Homo sapiens: one gene and its partner. The protein of the gene in region 1 purifies or fractionates together with the protein of each later gene. This does not show direct contact. Each region holds a gene or a part of one and is shown in the gene's direction. Other genes may lie near its edges.

Region 1 (8,009 bases):
ACAAGGCACAAGGAGCCTTTGTGGATACAGCACCTGGTTGACGGATGGGGTCCATGGCAACGGGCAACATAGACCATGTCTTGTTGCAACTTCCAGAAAAACTGTGGAAGTGAAGACAGTCCAAATGAGAATAAGCAAAAGGTGTTTATACAGAGCTTGCTATAGAAAGGAAGTCAGCCGCCATCTTTTGCATTTATCAGAGATTCAGAGGTAGGCAGGAAAGTCTGAGAGATTCATGGTAGAAAAAGTTATGTCCTGATTGCTGGCCTAGGGATGCTGTAAGCTGGCTAACTAGAAGTGTGGATTTCTATGGGATTAGTCAGAGATCCATATTTTGCTTTCTGTGGTTGGTCATAAATTGAAAATAGAGGCAAAAATTAGGGAAGCTGGCAGTTATTGGCCAATGCTGGTGTATTTGACTGTTGTAAGGGTCATGATAGAAGCTGTTTAGTCTATAAGGGCACTAAGAGTTTAGAGGGTTTCTTAGCAGTTTGGCTGCAATAACAAAATACCATAGACTGGGTAGCTTAAAGAACAGATGTTTCTATCTCACAGCTCTGCAGGCTGGGAAGTACAAGATCAATGTGCCAGCAGATTTCACATCTAGGGAGCACCTGTTCCTTGGATCATAGACAGCCAATCTCTGGCTATGTCCTCACATGGCAAACATGCCAAGGGAGTTCTCTGAGAACCCTTTTATAAGGGGACTAATGTCATTCATGAAAGCTCCACCCCCATGACTTGATCATCTCCTGAAACCCCCACCTACTAATGGCTTGAAAGAATATATTTTTTAGGGATCTCTTCTAAAGATTTGGGGGTCAGGATCTCAACATATGAATTTTTGGGAAACATAAACATTCAGTCCATAACACAAGGCAACAGAAAAATAAAATAGTACCTGTGTATTTTTGGGGCATTGACCTTCACTTCCAAGAAGCTTTCCTTGATGTTAATGGAGCACCTGACTCCCAAGGCATGGTATAAAAATAGACTGTGAATAAGAATTCTACGAGTTCTACCAAATAGCCTGTGATATGTGCATTTGAACAATGTATATTACAATATAGCATTGAAGTTGTTTTGTTTGTGTACCAAGTCATTATCCATACGTTTGTATGTATACATAGTCTGAAAATGTATTGTCAAACTATTATCTTAAATCAGTGTTGCCATATGTTTTCTCTTTTTATTATTTATGATGTCAATGTGCTGAGATATTTTAATAAATATCATATATCACTCAAAAACTTTATTATTAAAAATGTATAGATCTGGTGTAGTCCAAAGAAATGTTTTATGAACATATATACACCAAGGATCTAAAGAGCAAAGTTAACCTTTTATCTTTGATTTATCACGTGTCAGTCACTCCACCCCTGTTTGCCTCACTCAAACACATTATTATTATTATTATTATTATTATTATTATTATTATTATTGTGCATTTCAAAGTAAGTTGCAGACATCTTTGCAGTTCACCCTGGGACACAGTGGCATGCAGATTATAACATAGTCAAAGCAGTAAGAACCACCATTGCAAGAAAGAGGATGAATTAAAGTTCACCCAGGCTTATTTCAGATCCCAGAGCAGGAAATGAGGAGGGCAGATGAGGAGAAATGAGGATTCTGAAATAGTCTACTCGTGGGAGAAGAGTGCTGTCATGAAGGTGGAGTCGCTGCCCAAGAGAGACTGGAGAGAGAGTGTGTAGAGCCACTGAACATCAGGGCTGCACACTGTAGGGCCTGGGGCAGACAGGACATGCTGCAGCAGGGGAAAAGCCCCTGGCCCATGTGGAAGATGCAAGCTGGGTGGGTGCTGTGGATGCCATAGTGATGTGGAATGAGAGGAGAAAATGGGAGCCTGGGCTCCAAACAAGGAGTAAGCAGAGCCACACTTCTTACTCTCTCACTGAATCAGGTAACATGGAGAAAGATCTGGATCTTTGCACCTGCCCAGTAAGGAAGCAGAGGTGGGAGAGGGAGAGTCAGCCTGGACAAACTCAGGGAGAAGCAGAGGCCCCAGCCTCACTGCACATGTGTTCCTGATCTGTTTCCTCTGATTCTCCAGGTGTTGAAGAGCCATGGACAAGACTACCTCGTTGGCCACAAGCTGAGCCGGGCTGACATTCACCTGGTCAAACTTCTCTACCACGTGGAAGAGCTTGACACCAGCCTCATCTCCAACTTCCCTCTGCTGAAGGTGACCCATTTCCCAGTCCTCAAGAGGCAGCTCCTCATCTCCCATCTTGGGATCTAGTATCTGGGTCCTTGAACTGGCCACATTCTGACCTCAGCCTTCTCCAGGTCTTCAGGGCCCCCCAGGTCTCCAAAATGAGCTTCCAGGTCCTGATTCTGAGGCATGGAAATGCCTTCTTGTTATGCCAAGGAAATTACATGTGCATGCTACCCCAAGAATATTTCGCTTTTTATAATGCCAAGGACCCAGGACTCAGCATCTCTCCTCATCCCTTTATTTCACTGTGGTTTCTGTTCCTGAGTTCTCTGTGATGCCCTTTATCCCAATATGCCCTTATCTTCCCACACCAAGTGTGTCTGAGCAGGGCCCTTTCCATCTGGTTCCTTCCTTATGCTCTGGCTCTTGCTGTCAGATAACTGAGTTCCTTGTGCACAGCTCTCCCAACACGCTGCCCCTGAAAGCTATATCTCTCTATGGGAAAAAGTGGTCCCATGGTTTGACTTTAACATTTTCTATTTTCATTTCTAGCTCAATTTTCCCATATCTTCACTTCTTCTGCTTAGAGACTGATCTGTGCTATCTCACAGGCACATTGTTCTTTCTCATCTTCTACAAGAGCCATGAATCTACAAGATTCATGTGTAAGGAAGAGGGTAGGAAGACTGAACTGAATAAAGTCTTAAAGACATTTTTTGGGAAAATGCTAGTGAGCTGCATGTTCTTCCTCTTATCTTCATTTCTCACGTAGTGTCTCTTTCTGCCTCCCTACTGGTGCTGATAGAGGGAACTTAGTTGGTCTTTGTGTAGGAGGGGCGCAGATTCCCTGGGTTGTGTTAATGGTGGTGTTAGCCCTTGGCTTCACTCTGAGGCTGTGCTTTGTGCATTGCGGGCCCTGAAAATCAGAATCAGCAAACTCCCCACAGTGAAGAAGTTTTTGCAGCCTGGCAGCCTGAGGGAGCTTCCCATAAATGCGAAAGGTTTAGAAGAAGCAACAAAGATTTTCAAGGTTTGATAAAACAGGCATGGATGCCAAGAACATGCAATACCAATATTCTAAAGTTTTGCAACAATAAATTGCTTTATCTAAATGTTGGTTGTGGCTATTGTGAAGTTAATAAACTTTTTAAAAATTATGTGCTAATTACATAGTAAAATGCCTATGACCAGATTTAGTTAAAATTGATTTCTTTTCATTAGTATCTGATATGAAATCAGATTTCCAAACTCCCCATAAATTTTCTTGGAATTAAAAATTTAGTAAAAAAGTAAAATGTAGACTATGTGGTTTGTTTGACTTTTTCAAGAATTGTCCTGCAACATTTGTCAAATGGCCTATCAGAAAGTCATGTATAGAAATTTACTTCTGACATTCTGCACAAGAAAACAGTTATCATTCTGGGGAATGGCAAAATGAAATTTTCTTTTTTCCTTGACATCCATTTTATTTCTCATGAAAACACTTTTTCTTATGCATTTTCAAACAACCTTTCTGTCTGCTATGGATCCCTCAGTTTTGTAAGGGGTGAGGAAATATTGAAGAGCAAACAGACCCACCCTCTGCTCTCAGGCCAACTTGTCATCCCTTACAGTGCATGTGCTCCTGGCTCATCCTCACTCTCCTCAAGGCTCTGTGGGGACCCGGGCATAAGCCTTCCCTCAGTTCCTTCAGTGCCACTCAGGCCTGGCTGCGAAGATACAGATGGTATATGCGAATTACATATAAGTAACTATATGCAAAATTATTTTTCCCTGGTGTGTCATTGTGCCAGCGTGTTTGGATTAGAAGTGATTTCCAGGAATCCTTCCCTGCGTCTTCTAGCTTCTGGGGGCTCTTGGCCTTTCTGGACTTTCATGGATCATGACCACATCACTCTAATTTCTGCCTCTGTGTTCCAGCACCTCACCCCCTGTGTGTTGTGTCTTCTCTTCTCTCTGCTGTGAGGACAATTGTCATTGGATTTGGGGCCTATCCAGATATACCAAGATGATCTCATCTCAAATTCTTTTACTTCATTACATCTGCAAAGAGCCTTTTTCCAAATAAGATCAAGTTCACAGGATCTAGGGATTTCTATATGGACCTATCTTTCTTGGGGGCCAACATAACCCCCTACATGGTATAGGTGAAATAAGATTATTTGCAATTGATGAATCCAGGTGATGAATACTTTCAGATTTGTTATATTATGGGCAATTTGAGTGACGCAAAGAGGATAGCATATGCAAATAGGGTCTCTGGATTTGTCAGATAAAATACAGGATACCCACCTAAATGTGAATTTCAGATAAACAATAAATAATATTTCAGTATAATCTGGTTTCATACCGTGTTTGGAACATAGCTATAACTAAAAAATTGTTGATTGTTTGCCTGAAATTCACATTTACATGGATGTCCTATATTTTATTTGGCAACCCAGTAAGAAAACGGTGGCATCAGCTTGCCCTTCACAGACATCCTCTCCCAGCTATGCTCACAATAGAGATTTTTCAGTTGCCCTAGTCTTTGCACCCAACTCATGAAAAAAAGCATCTTTAAAAAGCCAGTTTCTGCTGACTTGCAAAAAGAGCAAAATCTCGGTGAAATGTATTGTGTAAACTTTGATTGCCAACCTTGAAAAGGAACACATTAACCAGTGTCTTCTGATAAGCAGATCACTTGCCTCATGTCTTAGAATCCAGTAGGTGGCCCCTTGGCCATGAAATGTGTGGGAGTGGCTTTTCCCTAACTTGACTCTTCTTTCAGTGGGAGAGAACTATTGAGAGGAACAAAGAGCTTATAAATACATTAGGACCTGGAATTCAGTTGTCGAGCCAGGACGGTGACAGCGTTTAACAAAGTAAGTACTGATCTTATAAATTTCTCTACATTGCCTCACACCCTCCTCTCTAGCCTCCTAGAAAAATATGCTAATATGTGTCCTTAGCACAAGGAAAAGTCTGTTTTTACTCATATTGTGCCGTCTTGGTGTGCTTGGGTGACAGTTCAAGAATTGTTTATTTCTTTTCTGTTGGATACATCTTTACAGAATTGTAAAAATGAAGAATTTAGAAAACCAGGGCTTCAGCATTTAATGGTATGGGAAACAATGACATGAAGAGAAAAAAGAAATGGTAGCATTTTAAACAATCTGAGAATAATCAGTGCTGGAAGAAGTGGCAATGTATGCAAAAATTTATTTCTCTGTGTAAGTAGTCAACACACAATTGTAAATTGTGACACTGTAATTCTATATTGGCTGTGAAAATACAAAACTCAGGTTTAGTATAATTAGAATAAATTAGTTTGAATGTCAGGAGAACTAGATTCTAGTTGAGCCTTTGCCACTAATTAGCTCAAAGACAAGTCATATTCTGTCTCTGGAGTTCTACCAACTCATGGCCAATATAGAGGATAGCTAAGAAAGAGGCTCCGACTGTTGCTGCCCTTTAAACTGTGTAATTCTTTGAATGGAGATCTGTCCTGCTCACTCTAGGATGTTTCTAGGCATCCCTGGCCTCTACCTATCTGATTTGTAACCCCCTTTCCCTCCCCGCAGATATGACAACCCAAAATGTCTCTAGACCTTGCTCAATGTCCTCTGGAGCAGAGGAGCAAAATCCCCCTGGTTGAGAACCATGGGACTACATGACCTCATGGGGCTAAGCAAGGCTGTGTTACTGATGTGCCCCACTGCTTGGACATTCACTGAAAATTTCCTGTTAATCCAGGTGGACTGATTAGTGAATATCAATATCTTCTGTACAGGAGCTAAAAAGGAAAGAGAGAGAGAAACAGAGAGCCATCATATGACAGATTTGATATAAGTCTGGATTCATATAAAATCTTATTCCTACTCGAGTTCTATGAACAAAATATAGAGAACCAGAGAAATGGATACAAGACAGATAATAGATGATGAAGAGACAGATTACAAAGAGATAGATACATAGAACGATTGATAGATAAAATAATACATACATGGATGGGTAGACAGAGATTATAAATAGATACATATACATAGATTGTTGGTCAGTAAAATAATTGATGGATAGATAGATCAAAGAAAGAGGATCCATGGGCTACTCAATATGTCCAGAGACTCACCCATCTTCCAAGCACTGGGACAAGAGCAAACACCCATTGCTGTGTTCCTACTATGAATTTTTTGTACATTATCTCATTTAACTTTCTCAACAACCCTCAAAAGTAGAAATAACTATCTCTATTCTAAGAAGAGAAAATTGAGGCTCAGAGATTAAACAACCTACTGCATTTATGAATCTCATAATGGAAGGAGTCATAGTTTATCTCATTCTCCCTTCTCTCTGATAAGAAACAGTGTCATTGGGACCACCTCAGAGATGTAAATGTAACTCCTTTAATTTACTCCTGGAATTATGAGAGCTTATATTCCTTTCAAAACAAGCCCATTTTTTAATTGATGTAAGTTAATTATTGATGTAAAGTAATTATACTAGTCCTCAACTCACTCTGATTTTTAGGTTGTCAAATCAGAGAAAGTCACAGTTTTATCAATTTTTTCTTCCAAGCAAGCCCCTGAAAAGTTGCTAACAGGAGGAACTCAGGAATTAGATGTTCCCCTCTCGTCCTCTCCTTCCAACATTTATTTGGCTAATATATATTTAATAGGAAAATACAAAACAACTTCTCAGACAGGAGCTGAGAGCCAGGTTATGAGGTGGAGTGGAAAAGCTCTGGACCTGCAATCAGAAGTTAAGGCTGACCCAACACTCACCAAGTGTGCAGCATGAGACAGGTGCTTTAGCTCTCTGAAACTCAGTGTGCCCATCTTTAATTTGGATAATAGGAGCCATTTCCCAGGGTTGTTGCGGAAGGTAAACACACTCCCTAGATATTGACTATGAATGAGGAGCATGTGTGTGTGACCCATGGCAAATCCTTGAGCTCTCTGGTTCTCATTTTCTGTTGACCCAACAAAGCTCAATGGTAACCTATGTCTCAGTCTTAGCCTGACCCTTGGAAACCTCACATTGAGAAAGTGATATGCTAGTTATCAGCAGGAGTGTTGTGATAAAATATTATGTAAGATAAAATTTCACTTCCTTTTGAAACATGATCCTCAATCAATGGCTAAGAGAGTTTAGTTTGGGGATTGGAATTACAACACTGTGAACTCTAGTCGATAACAATTAAACAAGCATACCCCATGCTTTCATCTGAACTTCACTCTCCCTTTCACTCTGTCAAATTATGCTATTTCCATTTCCCAAGTTACTTTAAATTGCTCCTGGAGTTATCATAGAAAGTACAATGTCAAAATATCTCATGACAAAACAGGTGAGTTGATTCAGTATGATTTCAAAGAATTCTTTACTTTCCAAAGGTTAATTATTGACTCCCATATTTTAAAATGAGACATTTAAAAGATTTTGATGCCTAATTTTAGTCATACATACCTTTTTAGAAATACATTAGTTGAGGCCGGGTGCAGTGGCTCACTCCTGTAATCCCAGCACTTCGGGAGGCTGAGGCGAGTGGATCACCTGAGGTCAGGCGTTCCAGACCAGACTGTCCAACATGCTGAAACCCTGTCTCCACTAAAAATACAAAATTATCCGGGTGTGGTGGCACATGCCTGTAATCCCAGCTACTCAGGAGGCTGAGGGAGGAGAATCACTAGAACCTGGGAAGCTGAGTTTGCAGTGAGCCAAGATCACGCCATTGCTCTCCAGCCTGGGCAAAAACAGTGAAACTCCATCTCAAAATTAATAATAAATAAATAAATACATTAGTTGTTAAAGGCAAGTATATTTTTGTTCCACACTCAACAACCACAAAACTTTG
Region 2 (7,248 bases), on another chromosome or scaffold:
CAGCCTAGCCAAAATGGCAAAACCCCATCTCTACTAAAAATACAAAAATTAGCCAGGCGTGGTGGGGGACACTTGTAATCCCAGCTACTTGGGAGGCTGAGGCAGGAGAATCGTTTGAACCCGGGAGGCAGAGGTTGTAGTGAGCCGAAATCGCACTACTGCATTCTAGCTTGGGTGACAGAGTAAGACACCATCTCAAAACAAACAAACAACAACAAAAAACCTTTATGTTGCAAACAACAGAAAACAGAAAACTCAAAGTGAAGCTGTGTGGTTTGAGCAAAAACTGAACAGTCCAGGGACAGCTCTAGCTTCATGAGAGGCTTGATGCAGGGCTCAAATGGCATGACCAGAACTCTTTGCTCCCTCTCTTCCAAGCAGATTTGTCTTTCATGAACCCAAGTTGTCAGCTGGAAGCTCTGGGTTATAAAGTTTAAGTACAGAGGGTGTATTAATCTGCTCAGGCAACTGTAACAAAATACCACAGATTGGGTGGCTTAAATAACAGACATTTTCTCACAGTTCTGGAGGCTGGGAGTCCAAGACTAAGGTTGGTTTCTGGTGAAGTCTCTCTCCCTGGGTTGCAGACAGCCTCCTTCTCGCTGTGCGCACTTGGGAGTAGTGGGGAAAAGAGAGGGAGAGATAAAGAGGAAGGGGATCTATCTCTGATGTCTCTTCCTCTTCTTATAAGGACAGTAGCCCTATCAATTAAGGCCTCACCCTTGTGACCTCATTTAACCTAAAGGGCCCTGTCTCCAAATACAGTCACATTGGGAATTAGGGTTTCAACATATGAATATGGGGTGGGGGGCAATGGAGGTGAGGACACAATTCAGACTATAACAGAGGCAGTTAACAAAATCCATTTTTCCAGCTGTCCCAGTGAAAAATCTCTTTGGCTTAGATTCCATCACATGCACATCTTTGAATCAATTACTGTAACCAGGGTGACGGGATATCCTAGAGATGAAAGGTAGCATCAGTTTTAAAGAATTCATATGGCTGAAAATTGAGAAAATAGAAATTATACAAAAGAATAATCAGAATTCTCTTGGTGGGAATAGGAGGAAGGAATTCATGCTAGGATGTTAGCTGTTAAATGTCTACTATATTGGGATGGTGCACTCTTTCTCTGAGAGAAGATTCCCCCTATTTAAAGAAAAAATAGTATAGCTATTAGGCTCATTCAGAGTTCAAGCTGATGCTATACATTGTTGATACAGGAGAGATCGCAGACTGGGTTTCATTATCATTATTACTATTAAACAGTCAAACCCACCTGCCTGGTACAATGATTCATTCTGATATCTAATTATCACAGTGGAAGTTGTGACAATTCAATTTCCTGATCTCTTCTCATATGGCTCCTGTTTTTCTTGTTGGATCCTTATTCTCCTCCTGTGCCATGGATTAGGACAATCCCAAAAGTCCTGCACACACCCCTCCGTTCTCTCTCAAAGCTTTTTTTCTTCATCTCGGCCATCCCCCAAGTTTCAGTGACCACAACCTTGAGTGTAACTTTCGTAACTTCATATTCCAGCCCATCCTATAAATCACAGCACTCTACAGCTTAATCTCATTCTTATTTGCAGACTCTGTGTCTCAGAGTCCTGAGCTTGTTTTTGCTTGATCCCAGCGATGACTAGCTTGCAGCTCTACTTAATAACATGAAGGAACAAGAAAGTCTAAGTCATCCTCTAAGTAAGGATTTACTGTTTATTGTTTGGTAAATGTCTCTTCCACTAAACTCTAAGTTCGTTTAATACAGAGACTATTCATTTGTAATGCCCAAAACAAATGATCATTCAATAAGTTCCTGTCAAAATATATGCAGCTTTCAATATAACGTAACAGTCTAATCCTCTCGTTTCGTCTAGAACAGTCACAATGAAGAAATGATGACAAGTTCACTACAGGAGTCTATCCCAGTTCTGAACAGCTATAATATTAGGAATTGTAACTGAGGGCCACAGAGTTGGGAGGTGGGTGTTGTTTCCCAGAATCTGAACTCCCATCCTATGCTTGGTGAATCCACTACTGTGTGAGGAGGCCAAGTCCCATCTCTCCTTACGTAAATGGAAAATAACAGATACAAGGTTGCTGTTTTTTGCTTTTTCCTGACCTTTGGTATTTAGGCCATGGTATGCGGACCTTGCCTGAGTACGGAGATCTGCATCTGGTATTGTGAATCAGAAGTTCCATTAAGTTATCTTAAAAGTAGAACCCATCTAGAATTCATTTCACTTGTGACATCTAGCGTCCAGTGGTGGTATTGGCAGTCCTGTATTCAGGCCATCCCTAAAGAATGACCTTTATTATGACATGGGGTAACCTCTAAGACTTTCCTAATGCTGTCCCCTCCCCTAGAATGCACCCCTCCTTAGCTCTGCCATCCTTCAAGGCCCTGCTTGAAGTGTCACATGCACTGGGAAGTTTTAAAGGAACATTTAGACAAAATATACCTCTCCCTTCACACAACTCCTTTAGTGTGGGGCACATACCACTTGCATAGCATTTACAGCCCTGTAAGTTCTATTTGTTTTTTAAAATCTCCTACTATATTGCGAGCATCTTCTAGGCAATAGTCGAGTTTACCACATCTCTGAATTCCTCCACTATGCCTAACACATTGCAGTCACTCAATTAATAGTTTAAAATACATATTTTTAAAATAGAATAGGAAGAAACATTAATAACATAGGGTATACCTTCTCTTGTAACAAAGGAGAAAAAATAAGTTCAGATCGATTTTAGATTACCTAATTGCAGCCAGTCATGATTGGCCTAAGCTAGAACAATCTTTTCCTGGCCCCTGAGTTAAGGAATCTTTGTTCAGTGATAGGGAAAATGGTATTTGTTTCATTTCTCCAAGAACATAGGTGTGATTACAAATGAATGAGCATCTGGTTCATTGGAGTCCCAGATAAATCTGTGAGACAACACTGTGAGCAATTTGTTGCCAATCTTAAAGCTCAGATCAACCCTTTGAGTCTGGCTTAGCTCAGGCAGAAATTGTAGTCTGCAAAAGAAACTGAGAAGAAGAGGGCAAGGAGAGTGTGGCATCCCAAGACATAAAGACTCAAATCAATGAGAGCAAGCAACTCTGTCAAATTTCACCAGAAGTGAGGACTAAATATTGACTACCGAATTTTGCAAGGTAGGAATCACTGGTAAACCTAACAAGAGCCACTTCATAGTATTGGTTGGGACCAAATCCTGGTTAAAGTGGGAAAAACAAACAAAAGAACAAAAGGTAAGAAAATGGAGATAATGGATGTAAAGATTTTTTTTCCCCAGAAATTTTGTTATAAAGAGAAGAAAACAAATGGGGTGGTTGCCGATTGGTGTCAAGGAGGATTTTTTAAAAAATGAAATCATGAAATGATTTTATGGCAATCACTGCAGCATGTTTATGAACTGATAGGGAAGATCCAATAGAGAAGAAAAAACTGAAGATGCAAAAAAGAGCAGTTAGAGCCAAGTTCTCAAATAGGCAAGAAAAGATGGGCTCGAAAGAACGACATGATTCATGTAACAGTTACTAGGACTCATCAGTGCTCATTAAATGTTATCTATTATTATTTCTGATCGCTTCAATTTTTGAATAGGCATCAGGGTTACAAAATATTATTATTAAAAACACATGCAAACAGCTTGGACTCTAAGACTGCATTCAATTCTAGTTCTACCACTTGGACAAGGCACTTTTTTTCTTCGGGCTTTTTCTCTGTAGAAAACGAGGAGTAATATCTGCCTCATAAGGCTGCGGGCTTAACTGAGATAATCTGTAAACTTTAACACATGGTGGGAACTTAAATATTAACGCCAGTATTACCACTGGTAGGGTGCATGAGATCGCACGATGGTGCCAAAGGTGTCTCTCCACCGCCCAGCCCAGCGACACTGTTCCCCTAGAAGGCATTGTCGTAAAAACAAAAAAAAAAAAAAAACGAACAAACAAAACACCAAAACACGGAAACTAAAAGCAAATACTTAAAAGACATGCAGGAAACCAGCCCAAGGAAAAATTTATGTGGAGCCACGTCTGCGCCTGCGCCTGCGCCAAGCCCACGGCGCGCCACTTGCACATGCGCAGTAGCTGTAGGAGGGGGTGGGCGCTCCATTGGGCGTTTCTCTTGGTTTTTCCTTTCCGCGCGGCTTGGGCGGACGTCTCGTGAGACGTGGGACTTCTCGCGGGAACTGCATTCAAATATCCCAGGCGCTTACTCGAGAGCTAGCTGAGCGAATGGGCCGGCGACTGTGGAGTTAGCGTCCTCAATGTGGACGCCCTGAGCTCCCATTAGGAGCCGCTGGCTGCGGCAGCAGGGGACTAGCGTGAGAGGTAGGGGCAAGGGGCCTGGTGGGAGGTGGGTGTGGAGAGCGGCAGTGGGGAGAGTCGAACAGGCCCTAAAGAAAGCTAGGGGCCGGGGTCTCGGCCGAGGCCTTTAGCTGAAACATCTCCTTCCCCGGAACCCTGGGGTCTTATACACTGGGTTCCGAGCCGGTCTTATCTTCCGCTGGACCACCTCGCCGCCCTCAGGGATTCTGGACAAATATGGAACGTTGGGTCGGTTGCCGGGTCCTCAAAATTATAACCGCCACTGGATCTGCGCTGTGCGGTACGGTAGCCTCTAGCCCGAACTAAGAAATGGTGCAGATGGGAGATACATATTGGGTTTCAGAGATAGCGCATAAGGAGTAATATCTCATTAATAATTTTTATAATGATTACATGTTGAAATGATGTTTTGAGTGTATTTGTTTAAATATGTAAATTAATTTTTCATCTTTGTTTACTTTTTAAATCATGATGGCTCCTAGAACATTTAAAATCACGTACATGACTCGCGTTATATTTCTGCTGGACAGCACTGCCCCAGCCGTGTGTCAGATTCTACCCTAATTGCTTTTCATTCGTTATCTCATTTAATCCTTTCAGTAACCGATTAGGTGGGTGTTATTGTGCTTGTTTTTATAGATGATTAAACCAGAAATTAAATAACTTGTCCAAGTTCATGCAGCCAGTGAGTAGTGGAGGCGGGGTAAGAACTCAGGCAGTTTGATTCCCAGAGTTTCCTGTGTCCCAAATGCTTTGTGTGTGCTATATTTTTGAGAAGCAGGACAGGAAAAATGGTTGCAGCACCATGGTTTCTAGGTAGATTCTAGTTCCCATCACACTTCGCGTCTTAACTTGCGGGTAACCCTAAGCAAGTTACTTAAAACTTTCTATGCCTCAGCTTGCATGTGTAAAATGAGGGAAATACCTTCAACCTCTTGAAGTTGTTGAGAAGATTGAATAAGAATGTGTATAAAGCGGCCGGGTGCGGTGGCTCACGCCTGTAATCCCAGCTACTCGGGAGGCTGAGGCAGGAGAATGGCGTGAACCCGGGAAGCGGAGCTTGCAGTGAGCCGAGATTGCGCCACTGCAGTCCGCAGTCTGGCCTGGGCGACAGAGCGAGACTCCGTCTCAAAAAAAAAAAAAAGAATGTGTATAAAGCACCAAGCACAATGTCTGTCACACATTAGTAGTTTTTAATCAACCACGGCTATCTCTCTTTGTAGATTGATAGGTTAACTCTTTCTCATCCATTAGACCTCTGCTGAAAAGTTACTTCCTCAGGAAAATTTTTTTGTCCATGTTCCCTTCTACGCGCTGCCCCCCAGATTAGGACAGCTCCCCCTTGTTACAGGCTCAGGTAGCATACATCTGTCTCTCTTGCACTTATCATACTTGTAACTTGATAGTTCAATTACTTGATTTAATGTCTTTTACTAATAGACTAGGATTCAAGAAGACAGGAATATTGTTTTAGGTTGCCATTGTGTTGTCAACACTAGCACAATGTCTCACACAATAAGAATTCCAGCAAATTTTTTGAATAAACTAAAGCAAATTTTTTTTGGCTTCTCTGGATATGCCTGGCTGGAATGTCTTGAGGTTAACCCTATTTTTATTTTGGTAGTTGAGATGACAGTATTTACTTAACTCAAGCTCATCAAGATAATTAGATGAGATAATATATTTGAAGCAGTTAGCATGGCAAATGGTAAATCCTCAACGAATGTAAGTTATTGTGAACAGTACAACATTTAGTTGGCTGGCCGTATCATGTACAGGCTTTGAAAAGGTCTTGCATTTTAGAGCAGTGACTGCCAAGCTGGGATTACCTAGAACACCTTTTTTTCTCTCTTAAACCCTGTATCTCTTCCCTTGTCTTCATTCTCAGTTAAAGACCTTGCTTCCTAATTCATTGATAAATTGAAGCAGTTAAAAGGTTACTTACACAGACTTCCACCACTGTACCTGCTTATCAGCATCTAAACTCATATACTTTGCTTAAATGAAATATCCATGCTTCTATTAAAACCAGTCTCTACATTAAACTTCATCCTGTTTATTCAGGGACATCACTAGCAATTCTCCAGTGTCTTCTAGATCATCAGTTTTTCTTCTCTCCTGGATTTATCCCATGACCTACAAACACTGTTATTTTTTTCCATCTTAAAAATAAAAAAACTTGTCCCTACTTCCTCTCCAACTGCTGCTCCGTTTATCCGTTATCCTTTGCAGCAAACCTGTGCTTGCTATCTTTATCTCCTACCATTCTCTCTTGAAGGCATTCTAGTTAGGCTTTCACCCCCACCTGGATATCAAAACTGTTCTTGTCACCAGAGACCTCCAGGAATTCAAGTTCAATGGCCAGTTCTCTGCTCTCACCTTAATTGCCTTAGCAGCAGCATCTGGCATGATTGATTACTCCCACCTCCTTAATACACTGTTTATTGCCTTCCAGGACAACACATACTCCTGGTTTTCCTTCTACCTCACTGGTCACTCCTGATTCTCCGCTGTCTTCTTCCCTACCTCATAACAGGGTTCAGTCGTTGGTCCATTTCTCTTTAAATACTTTTATCCTCTATAGACTGATAATTCTCAAATTTGCATATCCAGCCAAGATTCCTCTTCTCATATATCCAATTGCCTACTTGACATAGTTCATGTTCAAAACTCAAATTCCTGATTTTATTTCCAAAACATTATTTACATCAGTGCTTCAGCTGATGGCAATTCCATTTTACTAGGTGCTCAGGCCAGAAGACTTGGAGGCATTTTTTACTTTTCCCTTTTTCACACATCCCAAATTATATCTTTCAGAAAATCATATTGACCTTACCTTCAAAACCTTCAAAATCTGGCCATTTCTCACAGCCTCCTATGCTGCCACCCTAGTCTGAGCCATTTCACAT

What was found. Proteins that work in one complex are often made in the same cells at the same time.
Region 2: the proteins of GSTA1 (region 1) and SPDL1 purify together in Homo sapiens (affinity purification with mass spectrometry; 3 studies listed by BioGRID and IntAct, with this or other methods). This does not show direct contact.

Annotation. Positions count from the first base shown.
Region 1 is NC_000006.12:52,800,816-52,808,824, reverse strand, and holds the start of GSTA1 (glutathione S-transferase A1), read left to right. Parts: upstream 1-5,008; 5' UTR 5,009-5,040; intron 5,041-8,009. UniProt on the Homo sapiens protein: Glutathione S-transferase that catalyzes the nucleophilic attack of the sulfur atom of glutathione on the electrophilic groups of a wide range of exogenous and endogenous compounds.
Region 2 is NC_000005.10:169,579,548-169,586,795, forward strand, and holds the start of SPDL1 (protein Spindly), read left to right. Parts: upstream 1-4,225; 5' UTR 4,226-4,342; intron 4,343-4,532; exon of another isoform or gene 4,533-4,619; intron 4,620-7,248. UniProt on the Homo sapiens protein: Required for the localization of dynein and dynactin to the mitotic kintochore.